Homo sapiens: one gene and its partners. The protein of the gene in region 1 purifies or fractionates together with the protein of each later gene. This does not show direct contact. Each region holds a gene or a part of one and is shown in the gene's direction. Other genes may lie near its edges. The genes, in order: RAB9B, CHML, CDSN, POF1B, SELENBP1, VSIG8 and SERPINB5.

Evidence for each region.
Region 2: the proteins of RAB9B (region 1) and CHML purify together in Homo sapiens (affinity purification with mass spectrometry; 3 studies listed by BioGRID and IntAct, with this or other methods). This does not show direct contact.
Region 3: the proteins of RAB9B (region 1) and CDSN purify together in Homo sapiens (affinity purification with mass spectrometry; one large-scale study listed by BioGRID and IntAct). This does not show direct contact.
Region 4: the proteins of RAB9B (region 1) and POF1B purify together in Homo sapiens (affinity purification with mass spectrometry; one large-scale study listed by BioGRID and IntAct). This does not show direct contact.
Region 5: the proteins of RAB9B (region 1) and SELENBP1 purify together in Homo sapiens (affinity purification with mass spectrometry; one large-scale study listed by BioGRID and IntAct). This does not show direct contact.
Region 6: the proteins of RAB9B (region 1) and VSIG8 purify together in Homo sapiens (affinity purification with mass spectrometry; one large-scale study listed by BioGRID and IntAct). This does not show direct contact.
Region 7: the proteins of RAB9B (region 1) and SERPINB5 purify together in Homo sapiens (affinity purification with mass spectrometry, with the first as the bait; one large-scale study listed by BioGRID). This does not show direct contact.

Annotation. Positions count from the first base shown.
Region 1 is NC_000023.11:103,825,758-103,829,257, reverse strand, and holds part of RAB9B (ras-related protein Rab-9B), read left to right. Parts: intron 1-2,179; 5' UTR 2,180-2,253; intron 2,254-3,431; 5' UTR 3,432-3,473; coding exon 3,474-3,500. UniProt on the Homo sapiens protein: The small GTPases Rab are key regulators of intracellular membrane trafficking, from the formation of transport vesicles to their fusion with membranes.
Region 2 is NC_000001.11:241,633,870-241,637,369, reverse strand, and holds part of CHML (rab proteins geranylgeranyltransferase component A 2), read left to right. Parts: intron 1-1,175; exon of another isoform or gene 1,176-1,296; coding exon of another isoform or gene 1,297-1,337; 5' UTR 1,338-1,572; coding exon of another isoform or gene 1,573-1,603; coding exon 1,604-3,500. UniProt on the Homo sapiens protein: Substrate-binding subunit (component A) of the Rab geranylgeranyltransferase (GGTase) complex. Binds unprenylated Rab proteins and presents the substrate peptide to the catalytic component B.
Region 3 is NC_000006.12:31,114,587-31,117,446, reverse strand, and holds the end of CDSN (corneodesmosin precursor), read left to right. Parts: coding exon 1-1,422; 3' UTR 1,423-2,360; downstream 2,361-2,860. UniProt on the Homo sapiens protein: Important for the epidermal barrier integrity.
Region 4 is NC_000023.11:85,306,666-85,310,165, reverse strand, and holds part of POF1B (protein POF1B), read left to right. Parts: intron 1-1,949; coding exon 1,950-2,042; intron 2,043-2,889; coding exon 2,890-3,003; intron 3,004-3,500. UniProt on the Homo sapiens protein: Plays a key role in the organization of epithelial monolayers by regulating the actin cytoskeleton. May be involved in ovary development.
Region 5 is NC_000001.11:151,366,755-151,369,705, reverse strand, and holds part of SELENBP1 (methanethiol oxidase), read left to right. Parts: intron 1-151; coding exon 152-264; intron 265-516; coding exon 517-702; intron 703-1,386; coding exon 1,387-1,507; intron 1,508-2,530; exon of another isoform or gene 2,531-2,690; intron 2,691-2,801; coding exon 2,802-2,951. UniProt on the Homo sapiens protein: Catalyzes the oxidation of methanethiol, an organosulfur compound known to be produced in substantial amounts by gut bacteria. Selenium-binding protein which may be involved in the sensing of reactive xenobiotics in the cytoplasm.
Region 6 is NC_000001.11:159,853,816-159,856,736, reverse strand, and holds the end of VSIG8 (V-set and immunoglobulin domain-containing protein 8 precursor), read left to right. Parts: intron 1-93; coding exon 94-213; intron 214-576; exon of another isoform or gene 577-655; coding exon 656-854; exon of another isoform or gene 855-1,710; coding exon 1,711-1,984; 3' UTR 1,985-2,421; downstream 2,422-2,921.
Region 7 is NC_000018.10:63,486,958-63,490,457, forward strand, and holds part of SERPINB5 (serpin B5), read left to right. Parts: coding exon 1-126; intron 127-2,389; coding exon 2,390-2,507; intron 2,508-3,500. UniProt on the Homo sapiens protein: Tumor suppressor. It blocks the growth, invasion, and metastatic properties of mammary tumors.

The DNA of each region.
Region 1 (3,500 bases):
ATGCAGATGTTCAAGCTTGTTGAGGAACAAGGCATTCTCAAATATGGAAGAAAGAGAAAAGGAAGAATTCTTATACTTTCACTAGCAGGCCCTTTCTGAGAAGGGTTAATACTGAGCCACAAGGCCCCCACCAGTGCATGAAAGGAGGTGGAGGAGCCAGAGGAATAAAAATCTCAAACCAAATTTTTCAAAAAATGCTTACAAATCTTTGCAAACTTCATAAGCTTTTCATTCTCCCCCAAAATCCTGTTAAGTAGGGCAGGTATTATCTGCTCTATTTTTATGTAAGAAGATACTGAAACAGAAAGATTAAATGACCTGCCCAAGTTCATAAAATAAATGAATGGTGTAACAGTGATGAAGACCCTGGTGTCCTGATTACTGCCAGCTAGCTCAGTGCTCTTGACACTGAACCACATTGCTTTTCCTCTTTTTCCCTTGGCATAGAGCCTATAGGCCCAGAAGTTATGTGTGCACATAACCAAATAGGGAATGCACAAGCAACTGCAGCATTATCTCAGACAGTTATTAATACATCATCATTATTCCTGGAGCTGAGCATTTGGTTTCCATATTCACTCAGTCCTTGACCTGTCTATTGAGTTTATCTGCAACTGGGAGAATAGGGTCAGTGAGTCTTTTAATGATGTGAACGCCTGTTTGCTAGGAACTCAAGGAAGCTTGTGTGGCCTGGACGCTTAATACTAGCCATCAGAATCATGCCCAAGTTTGTACTTCTGTTGCTTTTCAAAATGAGAGTTCAAGAGTTTTGCTCTGTAAAATTATCCTACAGACCAGTATAAAAAAATAAAAAAGTGTGCTAACACTTGTTTCATCTCCATTTAAAGAAATGTTTGTTACTTGAGCTAATTCCAAAGACAGCAATTTGGGAGCAGGAAAAAGAGGACAAAAATTAGGAATTGTAGGAAACTTGAGAATTCTGTAGAGTGTATATAAACCAAGAAGGAGGATAAAGCCTATCCATTTAGGAGATATTATTTAAATTCATAATTACTGATTTAGATATCTAATGAATCCTTATTATAAGTTTTATCTATATTTAGAAAATAACATGTGATTATTAAGCAGCAGATTTTTTTTTAAAGCTTCGTTCTTCCTCAGTAAGAAATAACACTACACAGATCTAGGCACTGTTTTTCTTCTTAAACCAGTACTCTTGATGCTGCTTAAATAAGATTCTTGCCATAATTAATTATAATATTAGATGAATGTATATTTAAATTTAATAACACCAGCTAAATATTAAAACTGGTGTTTAAGACAGATGAACTGCCAGGTACAGCGGCTCACGCCTGTGAACCCAGCACTTTGGGAACATGAGGTGGGCAGATCGTTTGAACCCAGGAGTTTGAAACCAACCTGGGCAACATGGTGAAACCCCATCTCTACAAAAACTACAAAACTTAGCCGGGCATGGTGGTGCATGCCCGTAGTCCCAGCTACTCAGAAGGCTGAGGTGGGAAGATTACTTGAGCCCAGGAGGTCGAGGCTGCAGTGAGCCATGACTGCACCACTGCACTCCAGCCTGGGTGACAGAATGAGACCTTGTCTCAAATTTAAAAAATAAATAAAGAAAAGAAAAATGACCTAAACTAATTAATAAAATAATTAGCCAAGATAATATACTTTATTGTAAACAGGAAGCCCACAAACACAATTTTTTTCTGCTCTCTAATTATGTGGAATCAATTGCAGAGACAACCTTGAGACAGACTGGTGAGTGCACTAACAACTTTCTTGGAGATGGGAACGTTGGTAGGTATAAAAGGAAGAAGTTTCATCTCCGACTTAGGATTTCAGCATATCTTAGATTGCTCTGTACTTTCCTTTTCCTGAATGTCATCTATTGTGAATATCATCTTTCTTTAATTTGCTTTTACTTTGAATGGAGAATTCAATTGAGAGACAATATAAAATGTAAAAAATTATATAAATTACAAATTAGGATAAGTTAAAGTTCTTGGAATAAAATTATTTTGCTTATGTTAAGCATAGGTAGCATTTTGAACTTTTATTTTTGAAAAGCACCCTCTGTAGGTTACTTGAGGTTGCTGTGGGTTCTTTTTTTTTTTCTGACTTGAATATATTTTTATATAGAGCCTTAACGTTATTTTATTATAGATTTTTTTAAAATAATGTTTTCTATTCTGTTTTATAGCACCCTAAAAAGAAAGAATAAAACAACAACAGGAAAAAAAGGAAAATATTTAAATTGTGACAAAAACCCACTGGGTAGGTATTTCAAGGGGGCACACTGTGGATTTGGGATATTTTAATATTTGATCTCTTAAAAATGAATATTTAGAAAAATATATAGCTAGTACATAGGCATTCCAAAATCATTTTAAGGGCTACTAAATTTTGTAAAATTATATTCAAATGTGTGTGCTTCCAGAAACTGTTTTGCATGCACTCCTTCGATTAGTGATTCGTTTTCATCCCTTTGGGTCTATTGTATAAATATCATCCAATTAACCTCATCACCGTTGAGTTCCCACAATAGACCTAGTGGGAAAGTACCTAACAGAATATAGGAAAAGGTAGTATTTGTTCAGTAAGCATTTGATCTTTTTATTTTAAGACACATTCTAGGTGTTCCATGTGTAGACATGTTGTGGAGGTAACAAGTAGGGTACTGTATAAATATTAGCACTTTAAATTTTGCAGTATGTTTTCAAATGTTGCTATTATGGAATTAAAACCTGAATCCAAAAACTAATAAGCTATTCAAGATTTCCTTCCTTCATGACAGCTGTTATATTGATATCAGTCAATTGTCATCAACTTAAATGCCATTGTTCCATGAAGAAAAAAATATAGAAGATCCTTACTTGAGAGGGTGTTCCTATCAATGCAAGTATAATGGGGTAAATGCCTGAAGAAACGTAACCTTGTTCTCTCTTTCAAATTCTGGGGTGCAGTCTAATTCTGGCCCAGACCTCTACCGACAGAATCAAGAATCCAGTTTATGTAGCTTTCTCTTCTCAGTAATTTTTGTATCCATCAGGAGCAGACTTCAAACCCCAAGTCAATTTCATACTATTTGTCTATTGTTTGGAACTGTCCAAACCGGAAGCTAAAGTTGTCACACATTTGAGTGGCATTCCTGTTCTAGGCTTCCTCTCCTAGAATTGGGTCAGAACTGAACCAAATTACAGGACCATCTGCTAGTCCATTTACCCATGGCACTCAGCCATTTTCCTGGCACAACAAAAGACCTCAGAAAAACAAGACCTATTTTTCCCCTTATGCAAAATTAGTGTTATTTCTTCTGCTGTACTACATCAATTAATGAGCATAAATCAGAGAAGTTGAATGAGAAGGCCTTATAATTCAGAGAAATTTGCTATGAAGTTGATTTCAGTTTCAGGTTTAACTGTTTTCCCTCCTACTTTTCCTTTTATTTTCAGGTTCTCTTGGTTACAAACTCCTTCCCTTCTGGTGCTGCAAAAATGAGTGGGAAATCCCTGCTCTTAAAG
Region 2 (3,500 bases), on another chromosome or scaffold:
ATATTTTTGAGACAGAGGCTTTGACTAGACAGGACTGTTAGGATTGCCATTTTAGTTAAACTAAAGGTGTGTGCCCTATGCAATTTAATCTAAGTTCCAATTGAATGGCTTGTTTTTCCAGTATCCAGGATTATTAGTCATCTTGGGCTAGACAGGTACAGCTTGTACTGATTTATATTTCAGTAGGTTTAACAGTAGTGAAAACCAGAGCTCAAAACTGTGCAATGATGAATATTAGAAAGTTTAGCAGTATTGTTGCTTTAGCCTAAAGACTTTCAGGTGAGTATGCTCTTCAGCACCTTGGCCTTTCTACCTCTGGCCACACAGGGCATCACACAGATGTCTTCCGCACATGGAATGTAACCAGCATTATGCTCAAAGTTAACAGGAGAACCTTATTATTTTTTTTTTTTTAAACTTCCCCTTCAAAAATAAGAACAAACAGTGTTAGTCTTGGCAGAGGATGTTTAGATAGACCTTTTGCTTGGGATGCAGAGATTCAGGGTTGCAGAGACAGTGGCGAAATGCAAACATCACTGTATTCAAATGTTAGAAGTAGGTATTATTTATGTTAAGATATTTTAATATGAAATCAGAAGTTTTCCTTTTTTACTTACACTTACACACTTTTTTCCTTTATTACTTATATGCATGTGTACATTCATATAATATTTTTAATACATTTTCCTCCTCAGGGCTATTATGAGCCTAAATATTTTTAAATGGCCAGTTGTTTTACTGAATTAATCCTTTTGTAATAATCTGACTAGTAATTGAGTAGAAATAGTCTCATGTTGCTACCATGAGATCCTAAGGGTGGTTGTGGCATGGAAAGGTCTTATATTCAGCTGTTCTGGAATCACACATAGACTGTAATGGCCACAGAAATATTTTGAATCATGGCAGTATGCACATAGTTTATAATCTGTTTCTATAAACAGTGGAGCCATGCGTTCCTTTTAGTCTAAGCTCACAGCTGTGTATAGATTTATTCACATGATAGTTTTCTTAAAAGCTAAAGTTAGAGAATTGTATTATGTTATTTCTTCTTTATTTTTGTGGAACATTATGTTCATTCTCTATTACTATGTTGCCTGATTCTTGGGAGGGCTGTTATATCTCTATTGTCCATTCTCAAGAAATTAGAAAATATGTGAGAAAGCATTTAAGACATGCTTTAGTAGAGGTTTATGTCCAAATAAGATGTCACACTCCAATGGATTGTCATTGTTGCATGAAATTATTTTTCTCTTATATTGTTTACAATGTATTCTTTCTTGAATTTTCTTCTTTCAGAGAAGAGTTCCAGTCACAAATGCATATATGATGCATTTTGACATTTACTGCTAAGATGAAATGCAGAAATGAAACCACACATCCATTTTAGTATTCTCAGATGTGATTAGATGTACTTGCTCATGTTTTTATGCTACTGACTTATAAGAAAAAAAATATTTTAAAAGGGTAACCGTTAAACAGCTAGGACCTGCAACTTCAGTGCTTCTGGGATAACTGGAACATCAGAAGGACAGATTTTATTACAGCATAATCACACCTCATTTCTTTCATCAGCAGTTGTCACCAGACGCTGTTACTTCCTAAAATGGCGGACAATCTTCCCACAGAGTTTGATGTGGTTATAATAGGGACAGGTTTGCCCGAATCCATCCTTGCAGCTGCATGTTCAAGAAGTGGTCAGAGGGTTCTGCATATTGATTCAAGAAGCTACTATGGAGGAAACTGGGCTAGTTTCAGCTTTTCAGGATTGCTATCCTGGTTGAAGGAGTATCAGCAAAACAATGACATTGGGGAAGAAAGTACTGTTGTATGGCAGGACCTGATCCATGAAACAGAAGAAGCCATCACTCTTCGCAAGAAGGATGAAACTATTCAACACACAGAAGCTTTTTGCTACGCCAGTCAGGATATGGAGGACAACGTTGAAGAGATTGGTGCTCTGCAGAAAAATCCTTCTTTGGGGGTGTCTAATACCTTCACTGAAGTTCTGGATTCTGCATTACCTGAAGAAAGCCAGTTATCGTATTTTAATAGCGACGAAATGCCTGCAAAACACACTCAGAAAAGTGATACAGAGATTTCACTAGAAGTAACTGATGTAGAGGAATCAGTGGAGAAGGAAAAGTATTGTGGAGATAAAACTTGTATGCACACAGTTTCAGATAAAGATGGAGATAAAGATGAAAGCAAATCTACAGTAGAAGATAAGGCCGATGAACCAATTAGAAATAGGATTACTTACTCTCAAATAGTTAAAGAAGGCAGGAGGTTTAATATTGATTTGGTGTCAAAACTGCTGTATTCTCAAGGATTGCTAATTGATCTTTTAATCAAATCAGATGTTAGTCGTTATGTAGAATTTAAAAATGTCACTAGGATTCTTGCATTTCGGGAAGGAAAGGTAGAACAAGTTCCTTGTTCCAGAGCAGATGTCTTTAATAGCAAGGAACTCACCATGGTTGAAAAGAGGATGCTAATGAAATTTCTCACATTTTGTTTAGAGTATGAACAACATCCTGATGAATACCAAGCTTTCAGGCAGTGTTCATTTTCAGAATACTTAAAAACTAAAAAACTAACTCCCAACCTTCAACATTTTGTACTGCACTCAATTGCAATGACATCAGAATCATCTTGCACTACAATAGATGGTCTTAACGCAACTAAAAACTTCCTTCAGTGTCTCGGACGGTTTGGCAACACCCCCTTTTTATTTCCCTTGTATGGCCAAGGAGAAATTCCCCAGGGTTTCTGTAGGATGTGTGCAGTTTTTGGTGGAATCTATTGTCTTCGTCATAAAGTACAATGCTTTGTAGTCGACAAAGAATCTGGACGATGTAAAGCAATTATAGATCACTTTGGTCAAAGAATAAATGCTAAATATTTTATTGTGGAAGACAGTTACCTTTCTGAGGAAACATGCTCAAATGTGCAGTATAAGCAGATCTCTAGGGCAGTACTCATTACAGATCAGTCTATACTAAAGACAGATTTAGATCAGCAGACTTCCATTCTGATAGTTCCTCCAGCAGAGCCAGGAGCTTGTGCTGTACGGGTCACAGAATTATGTTCTTCAACCATGACATGCATGAAGGACACCTATCTGGTACATTTGACATGTTCATCTTCTAAAACAGCAAGAGAAGACTTAGAATCAGTGGTGAAGAAATTATTCACTCCGTATACTGAAACAGAAATAAACGAGGAAGAACTTACAAAGCCAAGACTCTTGTGGGCTCTTTATTTTAATATGAGAGATTCCTCGGGAATCAGCAGAAGCTCGTATAATGGCTTGCCTTCCAATGTTTATGTCTGCTCTGGGCCTGACTGTGGCCTGGGAAATGAGCATGCTGTCAAGCAAGCTGAAACACTTTTCCAGGAGATCTTTCCAACTGAAGAATTCTGCCCTCCACCTCCAAATCCAGAAGACATTATCTTTGATGGTGATGATAAGCAGCCAGAGGCTCCTGGAACCAATAATG
Region 3 (2,860 bases), on another chromosome or scaffold:
ACTGGGAAGGGTGACTCCAGCGGTTTCAGTAGCTACAGTGGCTCCAGCAGTTCTGGCAGCTCCATTTCCAGTGCCAGAAGCTCTGGTGGTGGCTCCAGTGGTAGCTCCAGCGGATCCAGCATTGCCCAGGGTGGTTCTGCAGGATCTTTTAAGCCAGGAACGGGGTATTCCCAGGTCAGCTACTCCTCCGGATCTGGCTCTAGTCTACAAGGTGCATCCGGTTCCTCCCAGCTGGGGAGCAGCAGCTCTCACTCGGGAAACAGCGGCTCTCACTCGGGAAGCAGCAGCTCTCATTCGAGCAGCAGCAGCAGCTTTCAGTTCAGCAGCAGCAGCTTCCAAGTAGGGAATGGCTCTGCTCTGCCAACCAATGACAACTCTTACCGCGGAATACTAAACCCTTCCCAGCCTGGACAAAGCTCTTCCTCTTCCCAGACCTTTGGGGTATCCAGCAGTGGCCAAAGCGTCAGCTCCAACCAGCGTCCCTGTAGTTCGGACATCCCCGACTCTCCCTGCAGTGGAGGGCCCATCGTCTCGCACTCCGGCCCCTACATCCCCAGCTCCCACTCTGTGTCAGGGGGTCAGAGGCCTGTGGTGGTGGTGGTGGACCAGCACGGTTCTGGTGCCCCTGGAGTGGTTCAAGGTCCCCCCTGTAGCAATGGTGGCCTTCCAGGCAAGCCCTGTCCCCCAATCACCTCTGTAGACAAATCCTATGGTGGCTACGAGGTGGTGGGTGGCTCCTCTGACAGTTATCTGGTTCCAGGCATGACCTACAGTAAGGGTAAAATCTACCCTGTGGGCTACTTCACCAAAGAGAACCCTGTGAAAGGCTCTCCAGGGGTCCCTTCCTTTGCAGCTGGGCCCCCCATCTCTGAGGGCAAATACTTCTCCAGCAACCCCATCATCCCCAGCCAGTCGGCAGCTTCCTCGGCCATTGCATTCCAGCCAGTGGGGACTGGTGGGGTCCAGCTCTGTGGAGGCGGCTCCACGGGCTCCAAGGGACCCTGCTCTCCCTCCAGTTCTCGAGTCCCCAGCAGTTCTAGCATTTCCAGCAGCTCCGGTTTACCCTACCATCCCTGCGGCAGTGCTTCCCAGAGCCCCTGCTCCCCACCAGGCACCGGCTCCTTCAGCAGCAGCTCCAGTTCCCAATCCAGTGGCAAAATCATCCTTCAGCCTTGTGGCAGCAAGTCCAGCTCTTCTGGTCACCCTTGCATGTCTGTCTCCTCCTTGACACTGACTGGGGGCCCCGATGGCTCTCCCCATCCTGATCCCTCCGCTGGTGCCAAGCCCTGTGGCTCCAGCAGTGCTGGAAAGATCCCCTGCCGCTCCATCCGGGATATCCTAGCCCAAGTGAAGCCTCTGGGGCCCCAGCTAGCTGACCCTGAAGTTTTCCTACCCCAAGGAGAGTTACTCAACAGTCCATAAGAAGTCAACTGTTGTGTGTGTGCATGCCTTGGGCACAAACAAGCACATACACTATATCCCATATGGGAGAAGTCCAGTGCCCAGGCATAGGGTTAGCTCAGTTTCCCTCCTTCCCAAAAGAGTGGTTCTGCTTTCTCCACTACCCCAAGGTTGCAGACTCTCTCTTATCACCCCTTCCTCCTTCCTCTTCTCAAAATGGTAGATTCAAAGCTCCTCTCTTGATTCTCTCCTACTGTTTAAATTCCCATTCCACCACAGTGCCCCTCAGCCAGATCACCACCCCTTACAATTCCCTCTACTGTGTGGAAATGGTCCATTGAGTAACACCCCCATCAGCTTCTCAACTGGGAAACCCCTGAAATGCTCTCAGAGCACCTCTGACGCCTGAAGAAGTTATACCTTCCTCTTCCCCTTTACCAAATAAAGCAAAGTCAAACCATCATCTGGAAACAGTGGCCACTTTTCACTGACCTTTCTTCGACATCTAGTCAACCCACCCAATATGCCACTGGGCTCTCGCTCCCAATTCCACCCCACCCTCCATTACAGAGCTCACCACGCCCTCCTAGATCACCGTCCCCAACACACCCATTGCCTCTCAAGGCCCTTATCTCAGCCCCTTCCTGTGGCCACTTCCCTCAGTGCTCAGATGATTCCCTGGGTGAGGGAGACACTGGGGCACCCTCAGAGGTTGAAGCAGGCTCCCTGCTGTCCCTGGATCCTGGACAGATGGCTCAGTAAACTGTGGGGACTAGGTGCAGACTTTTTGCCTTCTTGGAGTCCTGGGTCTCCTCTGAGAGTCTGGGTGGTGCTCTTCCTACGCCTCTAGAGGTCTCTGTGTTCCTCATTTTCCTTCAAAAGCGGGCTGTGTTTCTCTTCTACCTTCCAGCTGCTCCCACAGAGGAGGAAGACAATAAATATTTGTTGAACTGAAAGCAGAGATTGCCTGGCCTCCCAGATCCTTCCGCCATTTCCCTCCTCTCTCATTGCTCCAGGAAATCCATTCTCTTCCCATTCCTCATTCACCGTGGGGTCCCCCTTCCCCTTATTTAGGGCCCTCAGTGTTTCCTCTCCCTCCCCTCCCCTCCCCTCCCCACCCAAACTCCTTTTCTTCCACCATTAGCATTCCTCACCTTCTAGATGCCATCCTCTCTGGGAGTCATGAGTCTCGATTTCCTGGGTTTCTGGGACACCTGGAAGCTTGGGAAGGCTGGGACACAACAACTCCAACCAGATTCCTGTCAGCTGAGTAGGAGGCCAGTTGGGCGTTGTTCCTGGAGCTGGGGGTGGAGAGAGTAAAGGACTGAGAGGATGGGAGCAGGGCAGGGAGTGCAGCCAAGCAGGGTGACTCACTGGCCTAGATCAAGAGGCCCAGCCTGTGGCAGAACAGAGCTGCCGGTGGTCTCTCCATCTTCACACTCCCTGCTCTGCTGGGGTC
Region 4 (3,500 bases), about 19 Mb from region 1:
AGTGATTTTCAATTGACCCTGAACATGTCTGATCTTGTTTGATCTCAGAAGCTAAGCAGGATTGAGCCTGGCTAGTACTTGGATGGGAGACCTGGCCATTTTTATGTTGTGACTCTCTGGGTCTCATTCAAATATTCAAATATCAGAGAAAGTGTGTGCACTACCTATTACTGCCAGCTGGTGGTGGAAGTTGAGGTTCCCCCACTCAGCTTCTCTTGATGCGATAGGGTGAAAGCCCAAGCTCCCTTCACAGTCTCAACTGACATCACAGTGCATGGAATTTCATTTTTGGCCAGTAGGAATGAAAGCACCATTCTTCACTCTGTCTTTTCTGACACCATCCCAGTGAATGGTGTTGTGTACCTCCCTAGAGCCTGACAAGGGGGCAGTCTAAGCTCTCTTCTTGGCCTTTGGTGGTCCGTGTGGAAGTAGAGTTGCAATTTCTTCTGTGGTGTTTGGCTAAGATAGAGTGGTTACTATCTAAAAGTTTTCTGTCCTGCTAGGCTGACCCTTTCATGGTCCTTTGGTTAGAGAGAGAAGGCTTTTCTCAGGACTTTTGTTGTCCATTGATGTAACTAGATCACCAGCTTGCCCAACACTGATCTAATATATGAAGCAAAAAGAAAATCCAGGAACTCACTGCTGTGTCATTTCTCAGGTCCCAAGATTCCTAACCAATCATTTCTCTTTTCACCAATTTGGGTCTTTTTATATTTGTTTTATATATAATGTCCAGGGTTTTTAGCTGCAATTAACAGGAAGGCTAGGGAAAAGTATTTTTTTTCTTTTTTCTTTCTTTTTTTTTTTTGTGAAGCAACAAAAGTAGAGATTTATTGAAAATGAAAGCACACTCCACAGGGTGGGAGTGGGCTGAGCAATTGGCTCAAGTGCACAGTTATATAATTTTATGTGGTTTAAATGTCCTCTAGAGGTTTCCCATTGGTAACTTGGTGTACACTCTATGTAAATGAAGTAGTGGCCCGTTATCAGTCGGATTGGTTGCAGAAAGTGACCAATCAGAGGCTGAAGTTACAAAGTTAAACCTTAAACAACGTCTGATTGGTTGTGGAAAGTATTTTTACTCCATCTTCCCAGAAGCTGAAGTTGTCTGTTTTTTAAACCATTTTTCTTTAAAGAAATAAGAATAATCTAGTAAAAGAGTTTCCCCTCTCTTTAAAATTTGAGATAAGCCAGGTGCAGTGGCTCACACCTGTAATCCCAGCACTTTAGGAGGCCAAGGCTGGTGGATCACTTGAGGTCAGGAGTTCGAGACCAGCCTGGCCAACACAGTGAAATCCGTTCTCTACTCAAAATACAAAAATTCACCAGGTGTGTTGGTGCATACCTGTAGTCCCAGCTACTTGGGAGGCTGAGGTGGAAGAATTGCTTGAACCCAGGGGGCAGAGATTGCAGTGAACTGAGATCATGCCACTACACTCCAGCCTAGGCGACAGAGTGAGACTCTGGTAAAAAAACAAAAACAAAACAAAAAAAACCAAAAATATTTAGATAGCTCTATACTTTAAAGTTAAACTTAATTATAATTATATTCTTCTCACCTCAGGCAAAATTCAGGCAGTTGGCAATACACTTAGGGAGATTCATTTTATTATTTGATTATTGACTGTCTCATCTCTTCTAATCTTTTAAATAAAGAATAATGTAAAAATTAAATTTTGCTGATAGAATTCTACTTTGTGACAAAGATGATACTTTATCATGGAAAAAATAATAAATATTTGTTATAAATACTAGCTATGCTATCTTCAGGAATATTATTTGGATTACTTAAACACACTATTGACAAAATGCCTTATATCACCTTTCTAATTTGCCATATCAAAGTAAAATTATTAATAAGTTTGCTAGTAGGAAAAAAAAAACTTTCACTTATATTGCCTATTTTCAAATGTTAATAAAACTAAACCATTAATCCTTTCTTCCTGCAGATGAGGGGTATGTCTGATAAGTCACTCCGACTAGTGCTGTCCACATTTAGCAACATACGGGAGGAGCTTGGACATCTTCAAAATGATATGACAGTAAGATTTATTTTGATTTTTTCCAAAGCCTTTCTAGTTACTAGCTTCCTAATACAGAAATAAAGATGTCCAGTATATGTTTTTAAAATTTAATATAGCACAATATTATGCTTATTCAGACAAAGCTAAATTATTTTCTTCAAACAGTTAATTGGCATTGAGAGAGGAGAAAAGAGGTATCCAAAGTATAAATGAAAGAATGTTGGATGTGCACTTATCATTTAGTTTACCACTAAGGCAATTTAATGCTTAAAGCCAGAGAGTCATCTGCAAAGTTAAAATAATCTGACTCATTGGAGGTAAATTCCCCCTTTTTCATAATTATAAAGCATACTCTGAATTTCCATTCAAATATAATAACTTGAAAACATTTTTCTCCAAAAAATTAATTTTTTTCCATTTTCTATTTTAATTGGTGTTCTTGGTGCCATCAGCTAGATACATTCAGAATGCTTTCCACACATTGAATAATGCCTTGAGGACTTTGGAGTAGTTTTGTTGTTTCTGGGTTATGATGAACATATTTAGACTCTAATTTAAAAATTTACCACTCGCTGGGATTAACGAGGACTCTTTGTAGATTGGAGGAAAACATTAAAACATTTCAGAGGGTTGTGCTTCATTTCATGTATAGTTAGTCCATCAAAATGTCTCTTTCAATGAAGGTTTTAGAAGTTTCAATCATTTCCTATCCCGTATTTTCTTAACTTTTAAGAATTCTGCTTTATTAAGCAAGTACAAATGAAACAAGTGCTTATTTAAATCTTCCAAGGTAAGCAAGTCTTTGTATTATGTGACTGTTAAGTTTTTGCAATTCTGAATCATAATAAATAATTTATGCTTCTAGTCACTGGAAAATGACAAGATGAGACTTGAGAAAGATTTATCATTCAAAGACACTCAATTAAAAGAGTACGAAGAACTCTTGGCATCAGTGAGAGCAAATAATCACCAGCAGCAGGTAAACTGATGCTTTTATTGGTGTTAATCTACATTGATAGCTTTTCATATGCACAATTACTGGCACATTGGAGTTATGAGATATAATCAAGACAGAATTAAATATGATGGAAAAATTTGTTCATATGAGAATTGAGTGGCTTTGGGTATTTCTAATGGCTGAAAGCCCTCTCAGAAAAACAGATAATCTTATCTATTTTAGATATAAAGTACATATGGGACACAATTATTTGTCTTGTTGGGTGACCAGAATTGTAGAAATACTAAAAATCTAGGTTCATGCATTTATTTAATGTACTAACATGTCAATGAGAAAAGCTGTTGTAGACCTTAATACATGTTTGTGCAATAAATAAATGACTGAAAAAACTCTAGATGAATTCTCTGGATGTCTGAGCAGAGAGAATTCCTAGGAAATTGTAAGTAGTCTCTAAGGATTACCCTCTTCCTGATCTTTACTCCTATGGCTGTCCCAAATTCTTGCTCAGTTACTAGTTG
Region 5 (2,951 bases), on another chromosome or scaffold:
CCCATGGTCTGAGAGCCAGCGCCCTACTACTGATTCCACAGCTGGGGGTGGAGGGACTTCAGACCTAGCCCCCACCCTCTGGCACACCCAGCACTTCCCCTACCTTTCCTTCCCACCCTGCCGTCCCTGCTGCCTGCTTTCTACCGTGCAGGACCCAGGGAAGAGATCGTCTACCTGCCCTGCATTTACCGAAACACAGGCACTGAGGCCCCAGATTATCTGGCCACTGTGGATGTTGACCCCAAGTCTCCCCAGTATTGCCAGGTTAGGCGGGGCTTGGGCGCCAGCTACTTTGAGACCATAGCTGCCCTCATCCCTGGCCCTGGGCCCCCCCTTCCCAGCTCCATCCTTCTTGGCCCTCCCTGGGGATGCTTGTGCACGCTCAACCTGGGACAAGGGGAGTGCTGAAATCCAGCCTGTGCCGTGCTTCCAAACCAAAATGAGTCCACAGGGCGCCTCTTCCAAAAGTGGACAGAGGCGTGGCCTGGGGGAGCACCACCTCTCCCCGCATCCTAGGTCATCCACCGGCTGCCCATGCCCAACCTGAAGGACGAGCTGCATCACTCAGGATGGAACACCTGCAGCAGCTGCTTCGGTGATAGCACCAAGTCGCGCACCAAGCTGGTGCTGCCCAGTCTCATCTCCTCTCGCATCTATGTGGTGGACGTGGGCTCTGAGCCCCGGGCCCCAAAGCTGCACAAGGCATGTCCTCTGCCCTTGCCAGCTCAGTAGACCATAAGACACCTGCCACCCCAGGTAGTCTACGGGCAGGAAGCCAGACCTAAACCAGCAGCCTCCAGCTCTTACGCGGCAACTGGCTCGGCAGCAGGGAGGGAGGTTGGACCTCAGAGCAGAGTCTACCCAGGCATTCTGGGTCATCACCCTCCAGCACGGTGACCAGGGCATGGGAGAAGAGGGACAAGGCTTCTTGTTTTACTCTGAGAGAGGGAGGGAGCCATTTATTCCCCCATGCAGTTAGGAGCTCAGGGTTCTCTTAAAAATTCCGGTCTCTCCCAACACTTTGTTTAGTGCACTTTTGGTGCCAGGCATTTACTGTGTTGTCTACTGGTAATACAGAGTTGACACTGGTGTAGGCCAGCCTGGGAGGAGCTTATGGTTTCACAGGGCTGCGTGTGCCTTCAGGACACATGGGGAAAGGTCAGCGCTTTCTGCCTGGGGAGTTATTAGCAATCTCTCTGACTTTCCCTTGCTGCTCTGTAGAAGTTACCAGACTGAATCTTTGTCATATTCCCACAGGGAGAGTTGTGTCCATGTTTTGAAGGAAAAGATGACAGAGTCAGCAGATAGAAGTAGGGGAAGTATGGAGGTTAAGAGCAGGGACTCCCAGTCCTGTATGATTCTGACACCATTCCCCACCCCTTCCAGGTCATTGAGCCCAAGGACATCCATGCCAAGTGCGAACTGGCCTTTCTCCACACCAGCCACTGCCTGGCCAGCGGGGAAGTGATGATCAGCTCCCTGGGAGACGTCAAGGGCAATGGCAAAGGTACCTGCCAGCACTGTGTGCTCATGAAAACTTCCACAGCTGTGAAATGTGGGAAGCATTTTTCTGTGGGAGGAGCAGAATGGAAGGGGAGGGTTGGAATGACTTCCCAAGGAGAACCAGTGAGCTGGATCCCAGCCAGTATTTTAAATGTTAGCAAGTAACTTCAGTTTTGAATATTTCTATTAAGATGAGTCTTCACTGATGAATTCAGTTCAAAGTTATAGTCAAAACAGGCCAGGTGTTGTGCCTCACTCCTCTAATCCCAGCACTTCAAGAGGCCGAGGCCAGCGGATCGCTTGAGCTCAGGAGTTCCAAACCAGCCTGGCCAACATGGTGAAACCCCATCTCTGTGTTGTCTGCTGATAATACAGAGTTGGCACTGGCAACTCTGCACTAAAAATACACAAATTAGCTGGGTGTGGTGGTACAGGCCTATAACCCCCACTTCTCAAGAGGCTGAGGTAGGAGGATCACCCGAGCCCAGGGAGGTCAAGGCTGCAATGAGCTGTGATTGAACCACAGCACTTCAGCTTGGGCGTCAGAGTGAGACCCTCTCTCAAAAAAATGTAGTGAGCAGAATGGAGCTTAGACTCTGGGAGGAATCCCACTCCAAAAGTGGGAGGCTGGACAAGAGAAATACCAGGTGCTGAGTCCCAGAAGATCTCGTGGGAGAAACGTTTCTGCTGTGGTCTGAGAGAGAGATGAAGTAGACAGGAGACAGGGGCACTGGCGTAAAGGCCCCCCTGCCACCTGGCCAAATTTGAATACCTGGATGAGACCCTTTGGATGCCTGAATTTTTTATTTACTTTTTCTTTTCTTTTTTCTTTTTCTTTTCTCTTTTTTTTTTTTTTTTGAGATGGGAGTCTCGTTCTGTTGCCCAGGCTAGAGTGCAGTGGCGCAATCTCAGCTCACTCCAACCTCCGCCTCACTGGTTCAAGAGATTATCCTGCCTCAGCCTCCCGAGTAGCTGGGATTACAGGCATGTGACGCCATGCCTGGGTAATTTTTTATATTTTTAATAGAGACAGAGTTTCACCATGTTGGCCAGGCTGATCCTGAACTCCTGACCTCAAGTGATCCGCCCGCCTCAGCCTCTCAAAGGGCTGGGATTACTGGCATGAGCCACTCTTCCCCCAGCCCTGGATGCCTGAATTTAAGGAACTGGCAAATCCAGCAGTGGAGGTAGAGGCAATGGGCTTACAGCCTCTTAGACATGCCTCGGGGAGAGGGCTGGAGGGTGGGGTTAGTGTCTCTACTGCTTCTACCTGCCACCCTGCTTCCTTCCCTGTTCAGGGGGTTTTGTGCTGCTGGATGGGGAGACGTTCGAGGTGAAGGGGACATGGGAGAGACCTGGGGGTGCTGCACCGTTGGGCTATGACTTCTGGTACCAGCCTCGACACAATGTCATGATCAGCACTGAGTGGGCAGCTCCCAATGTCTTAC
Region 6 (2,921 bases), on another chromosome or scaffold:
CTTCTAGAGTGGGTGTCCCATCCCCCACCCCACAGGGACTGAGGTTGGGGTGGGAGCTCTCAGAGACCAGGCCTCTCTCCACTTCACTTTCAGGCCTGAACAATGGGGACCTGGTGTTGAAGGATATCTCCAGAGCAGATGATGGGCTGTATCAGTGCACAGTGGCCAACAACGTGGGCTACAGTGTTTGTGTGGTGGAGGTGAAGGTCTCAGGTAGGTGCAGCAGTCTTGAGGGCTGGGTGGTTGGGAGGGTTGAACTGGAGGAGGCTGGGCTCTGGTTTGGAGCCTCAGCTGCTTCTGCCTTTCCACTGCCATCCATTTGCCAGTGGGGGCTCCCAGCCCCTTTCCTACAAGTGGGCCAAGATCAGTGGGTACGATCTTGACCCTATTGAGCTGGGTCAAGCTCGCCCAGCACAGCTTCCACTCTGAGCTCTAGAGCCCAGAGCAGCTGGAAGCCCTGGGAGAAGCATGCTGACACGAGGGGTTAACTTGCATCTCCCCATATCTTCCCCACTGGGTGTTCCAGGGCTAAGAGACCCCCTGGGTCCCTCTCCCTCTTTCCCATTAACCCCTGACCTGGCACCTCCTGGTGCTGTTCCCTCAGGCACCTGCCAGGCTGTGAGAAAGCCTGACCTGCCTCCACTTCTCTCCACAGACTCCCGGCGTATAGGCGTGATCATCGGCATCGTCCTGGGCTCTCTGCTCGCGCTGGGCTGCCTGGCCGTAGGCATCTGGGGGCTCGTCTGCTGCTGCTGCGGGGGCTCCGGGGCTGGCGGCGCCCGCGGTGCCTTCGGCTACGGCAACGGCGGCGGGGTCGGCGGAGGGGCCTGCGGCGACTTGGCTAGTGAGATCAGGTAAAACCTGATGCATGCTGCATGCTGCTGTGCGGCAGGGAACCGGCGCCCTGCCCACCTCACTCCTGCCTGCCACCGGCCGGCTGGGCCCCCCACCCCAACCCTGCCCGCCATCGCCACGGAGTGCTGGGACTGCGGCATGTCGACCTGCCACCCAACTCATGGCTTTCCCCTCCCCCTGCCACCCCAGTCTTCACCTCTGCTCCCTGCCTTCCATTTCCCTCCTGCCTACGCACCTGTCTGTCTTGTCTAGACTGTAAGCTCCTGGAGGGCAGGGCCTATGTTTTTTCACGTTTCCCCTGTACTGCGCCGGTAAGAACTCTGACATTATTATTTAAGAAGAGCTAATAATAAGAATAGTGCTAATAACTTATATTAGAAGCAAACTAGAAATAAAAATAGAACAAGTCTAGTAGTGCTAATGATTGCAATGCCTCGGGGATGGAGGGAAAGATGGAGAAGACTGAGGGGCAGGAGGTGAGAAAGAGAGAGATTGCTCGAGCAAGGTCAGGATTAGCTAAGGAAAGAAGAAGAGGAAAAGCACCTTCTTCTGGGCCTGCGAAACATCAGAAAGGGATTGCAGGGGCCTGGAGGGGGCTGCCTGCAGGGCTCTCCAGATACGCGTGGACAAGCCCTGTCTGGAGGATGGGGATGCTGGCTCCGGGACCGCTGCAGGGTCGCCGACCCAGGAAGGGTCACAAAGGACAGTAGGTCGAGGCCGAGGGAGAGAGACGAGGGCAGGTGGAGGGAGGCGCGGGAGACAAGAGGTTGCCAAGAGCCCCCGGCTCTGCCCAGGCCGTGCCCACGCCCCGCTGCGGAGCAGCCCGCTCACCCGCCCGCCTGTTGTTTTCCACAGAGAGGACGCCGTGGCGCCCGGGTGCAAGGCCAGCGGGCGCGGCAGCCGCGTCACCCACCTCCTGGGGTACCCGACGCAGAACGTCAGCCGCTCCCTGCGCCGCAAGTACGCGCCTCCCCCCTGCGGCGGCCCCGAGGACGTGGCCCTGGCGCCCTGCACCGCCGCCGCCGCCTGCGAAGCGGGCCCCTCCCCGGTCTACGTCAAGGTCAAGAGCGCGGAGCCGGCTGACTGCGCCGAGGGGCCGGTGCAGTGCAAGAACGGCCTCTTGGTGTGAGCGCGCGCGCCGGGCCGGGCTGCGCCCCAGCCAGGAGGAGGGCGCGGGGCTCTCTGTCTGCAGCTGGGGACACGTCGGGGCTGGGGACGACCTCGCTCGCCCCAGGCTGCCAGGCGGCTGGGGGTGAAGGCATTTCCCTAAGGAAATGCGTAGGGAGGCAGAGCCTCCTCCCCAAAAGTGGGAAGGGGCGGGCGAGGGCGGAGGAAGGCGATCCTGAGCCTTCTCCGCACCCCCGGGACCGAAGGCTTGGGGGAGAGGGAGGGAGGAGGAGGCTGAGTGTCCTAGAGCGGCTGAGGCCGGAGGCCTGGTGTCCCCAGCCTAAGCAGAGGGCCCCGGGGGCCGGGTGGGTGGGGGTCTGTCTGGACGAATTGTTCTGTGTGTGAGGTCTGAGCTCTGAGGCAGCAGTGTTAGCACAATAAAGAAACATTGAGACGTGAGTCCGAAGTGGCTGTCCGCGTTCCACGGAGGTTGGGCACGGGGTGGCGAACCCTGCCCAGGGCCGGGGAGGGTTGCTTCTGTCGCTCGCCTCGACCACGCCCCCTCTCCTCCCTCCTGCTTAGATCCCTGGCAGTCAGAGCTGGAAGGGGCCATCCAGGGCAACTCCTCTGAACAACATACAAAGTGCAGATAAAAGGAAAACAAAGACAAAAAGAATTAGCTCAGAATATCTACGACCGTAAAATAAACTGAGGAACCGACAAAGTGCAATACACTTGCCATTTCTAAATATTCAAAGTTTTCACATGTCAAGATTTTCTATTGAGAATAATGTGCTCTGAAGGTCTAGGGAGTCTTTGTATGTTGCTGAAAGCTAAAAGGAAACCAGTCCTTGGAGCACAGAAGGCACAGGCATCCGGTGAGACAGAAACAAGGACATGTGAAAATAAGACTACAACCTCTTATATTAAAAAACTAAGTGCCACAGTTCTAGGGTGCT
Region 7 (3,500 bases), on another chromosome or scaffold:
GAAAATGTCAAAGATGTACCCTTTGGATTTCAAACAGTAACATCGGATGTAAACAAACTTAGTTCCTTTTACTCACTGAAACTAATCAAGCGGCTCTACGTAGACAAATCTCTGAATCTTTCTACAGTAAGTTGTTTAAAGCAAGTAGCAAGACTTAACTTTTTACAAGGAGTGGCATTTTCATGCTGTTAGACCTACAACTTTTTTTCAGTGAAATTCCTTTCTAGGATGTTCACTTGTGATTTGAGGCTTTAAATAAATAAATCCTAGTGGAGAGGTTGAGTATAGTGGGAATCAATTGCAGTCACATCTTCTAACTCAAAATACAGAGAAGCTTATGGGCTTTCCTTTTCTCTCTCAAATAAATCTTACCCTTTCTTTTACCTTCCTCTGAGAGAATGGAGAACAGAGTAATTAACTCTCTAATAAATGTAGCTCCATAGACAATGAGCTGTCTTACAGAGTGTAAGACAGCTAATGATTTAAACTTCTTTCTCCTTAAAGAGCAGGGCATATGGCCTGGGACAATGTTTTAAGCTCTCCACCTCATTTTTTATGCACACATTCTTCTGATGTTTCTCAAAATCAGTAAGAAAAATAATAACTATGAATTCACAATTTTCATCAGTCACAAATTAGTTTTGTTGGCTGGGCTGGTCAGATGGGGATCTCCACAGGCAGCTCTGGTTATATAAGTTTAGCCATTGCTCTAAGGAATCATACAAACACCACTACGGTACCCATTGTTGTAATATTTAAAAATCTGTATTTGAAACACACAGACAATATTCTAGACTACATGAAGTTTCCCTCTGTACTTCAGTAACACAGAGTTGATTTAGTTCCTGTTTGGATGGTCAGAATTTCAAGGTTTCCAAATCGAAAAGCTAGACTACCAGCTTTTAAATATTTTACCATGATTTTGCAACTTTCTGCAGTAGGTATTTTTGTGGTTAAGATCTTTTGAGGACATGGGTTACTAGATATTGTGAGTATATTTTTTGTTGCTTAAAGATACATACACACAACCATTTTTCTTCCAACAATCATCTGAAGAATTTAAAAAAAAAAACTGAGATGTGAGTTGAAGCCTGAGCATACAACATTTCTAGAAGCTCCCTAAATGATCATTAAAGAGACAATTAACACATTTTTATTGCTGGCAGTGAGGACAATGGAGGCCCTCCTTCATCTGGCTGAGGCTTTCTAATGTTTTCAGGTGAGATTGGTTCTGTCAGTCAATGGTGACAGTGAGTCCCAAGGTTGATTTGCAATTAACTGAAGCTAAGTTAATTGGCTAAGGCTGAAGCTGCTCTGAAGAAATTCAAGAAGCCCTGTGCTTGGAAGTGAACTGACATGACACTGAATCAAGTTATATTTAGTTTCACTGAACTTCCATGCAACATCTGGAATGATCTTAACCAGACTAGGAGTTGTAAAGTTTTGTTTTGTTTTTTTCCTTGGAGATGGAGTCTTTCTCTGTTGCCCAGGCTGGGGTGCAGCGGCATGATCTCGGCTCATTACAAAAGATTTTTTAAAAGACTGCTTTCCATTGCTCCTGCTAGGTGCACAGCATCTGCAAATTTACTAGTTAAAGGTCCAAACAAGTGTGCTCTGTGGAGGATCTCTTGCATAAGAACTATCTGGGTGTTAAAAGGGCAAGTTCTTCAGGCCCTTTTAACACCCAGGTAGTTCTGATTGAACCCAGGTAGTTCTGATTAAACCCAGGTAGTTCTGATTGTCAAGGTGGGAATGGGGTTTAGGGTTGCACATTTTAAATAAGCATTAGAATAAGAACTCCTGTTATGTTCTCTCCTGCATTGTGTTTCCAACCTTAATTTGCAGATGGCACACCTGGAAATTTTGTTAAAATGCATTCTGATTCAGTATGTCTGGGGTGGGGTCTGAGATTCTTTATTTCTAACAAGGTCTCAGGTGATGCTGTACACCACCTTGGACCACAGTTTGAGTAGCAAGGGTCTACAGGATATTTAGTTCAGCAAAGACAAGAGTTTTCTGCTCATAATTCTGTTTTCTATACATTTCCTATATTCTAATATATATGTATCTGTAGACATACAAAATTTTCATGTTTCTGAAATTACAACCCATAAGAGAATTGGGCATATTTAACATAGTGTTTTCCCCAAAGCTGATATTAAATTGATAGATGCATTTAATAATTGAAATTGTCTTATAATTGAAAAAAATGAAACATTCAATACAAAGAAATTCACTGACTTCTACATGAGGTTTCAATTCATATAGTGTTACCAATTTTGAAAGTGTACATATAGCAGTTGATATTTAATAATCCTTTTGTTAGAAGAGAATAACAATGCAATAGCTTGACTACAGACTCTGATTTTATGAACTGCATGTTTTTCAGGAGTTCATCAGCTCTACGAAGAGACCGTATGCAAAGGAATTGGAAACTGTTGACTTCAAAGATAAATTGGAAGAAACGAAAGGTCAGATCAACAACTCAATTAAGGATCTCACAGATGGCAAGTACCCTTTAATTGTTCTGCTATCAATCACCAAGTAAACAGGGCCTTCCATCTCATAAATGTTTGCTCCAAGGATAAAAAAAACATCTGGAGGATTCTCTGGATATTTTTACTACACAAGCTAAATTCTTTCCCTTCAAGCCTGTAAACAACTTGGATTTCTGGGCAATTCTTGTATCATCTCATCACTTGGTAGAAACTGTTGATGCTTCAGTGTTAGTTTACTTTGTCTTGCTCTCTGACGAGCTGTCACAGGCCCTAGTGGAATCCTAGCTGCGCCTCTAACAAAGTATGACTTTGGGCCAATCATGAGGCCATTTTTCAGTCTGGAAATAGAGGGACTGGATTATAACTTCATGATCCCCGAGGCCCCTTTCAGCTGACAAATTTTACAAATTTGTTAAGGAAAAAGGGACATAGGCAACATATGTAAAAGAAAAACCGGCTGGACGCGGTGGCTCACGCCTGTAATCCCAGCACTTTGGGAGGCCAAGGCGGGCGGATCACGAGGTCAGGAGATCGAGACCATCCTGGCTAACACGGTGAAACCCTGTCTCTACTAAAAATACAAAAAATTAGCCGGGCGTGGTGGCGGGCGCCTGTAGTCCCAGCTACTCGGGAGGCTGAGACAGGAGAATGGCGTGAACCCGGGAGGCGGAGCTTGCAGTGAGCAGAGATCGCGCCACTGCACTCCAGCCTGGGCGACAGAGTGAGACTCTGTCTTAAAAAAAGAAAACCAAACCAAACAAAACCGTAGTGTCAGCTTGTCCTCGGTGCCGCAGCTCCCCATGCTGGTCGTTCCTCTGATAGCCCCGGGGTCCAAGAAGCTCCTAGGTTCTTTCTCCGGCTCAGTGCTTCCCCCAGGCGTCTCCCTCGTCGGACTCCTCGTCCCTCCCTTAAAATTGCCGGTGAGTCGTCTTCCTTGCTGGAAAAGAATTAGGGTTATGATGATTTTGAGGGCAAATCAGTGACTTTGTCCCCCTCCCCAGT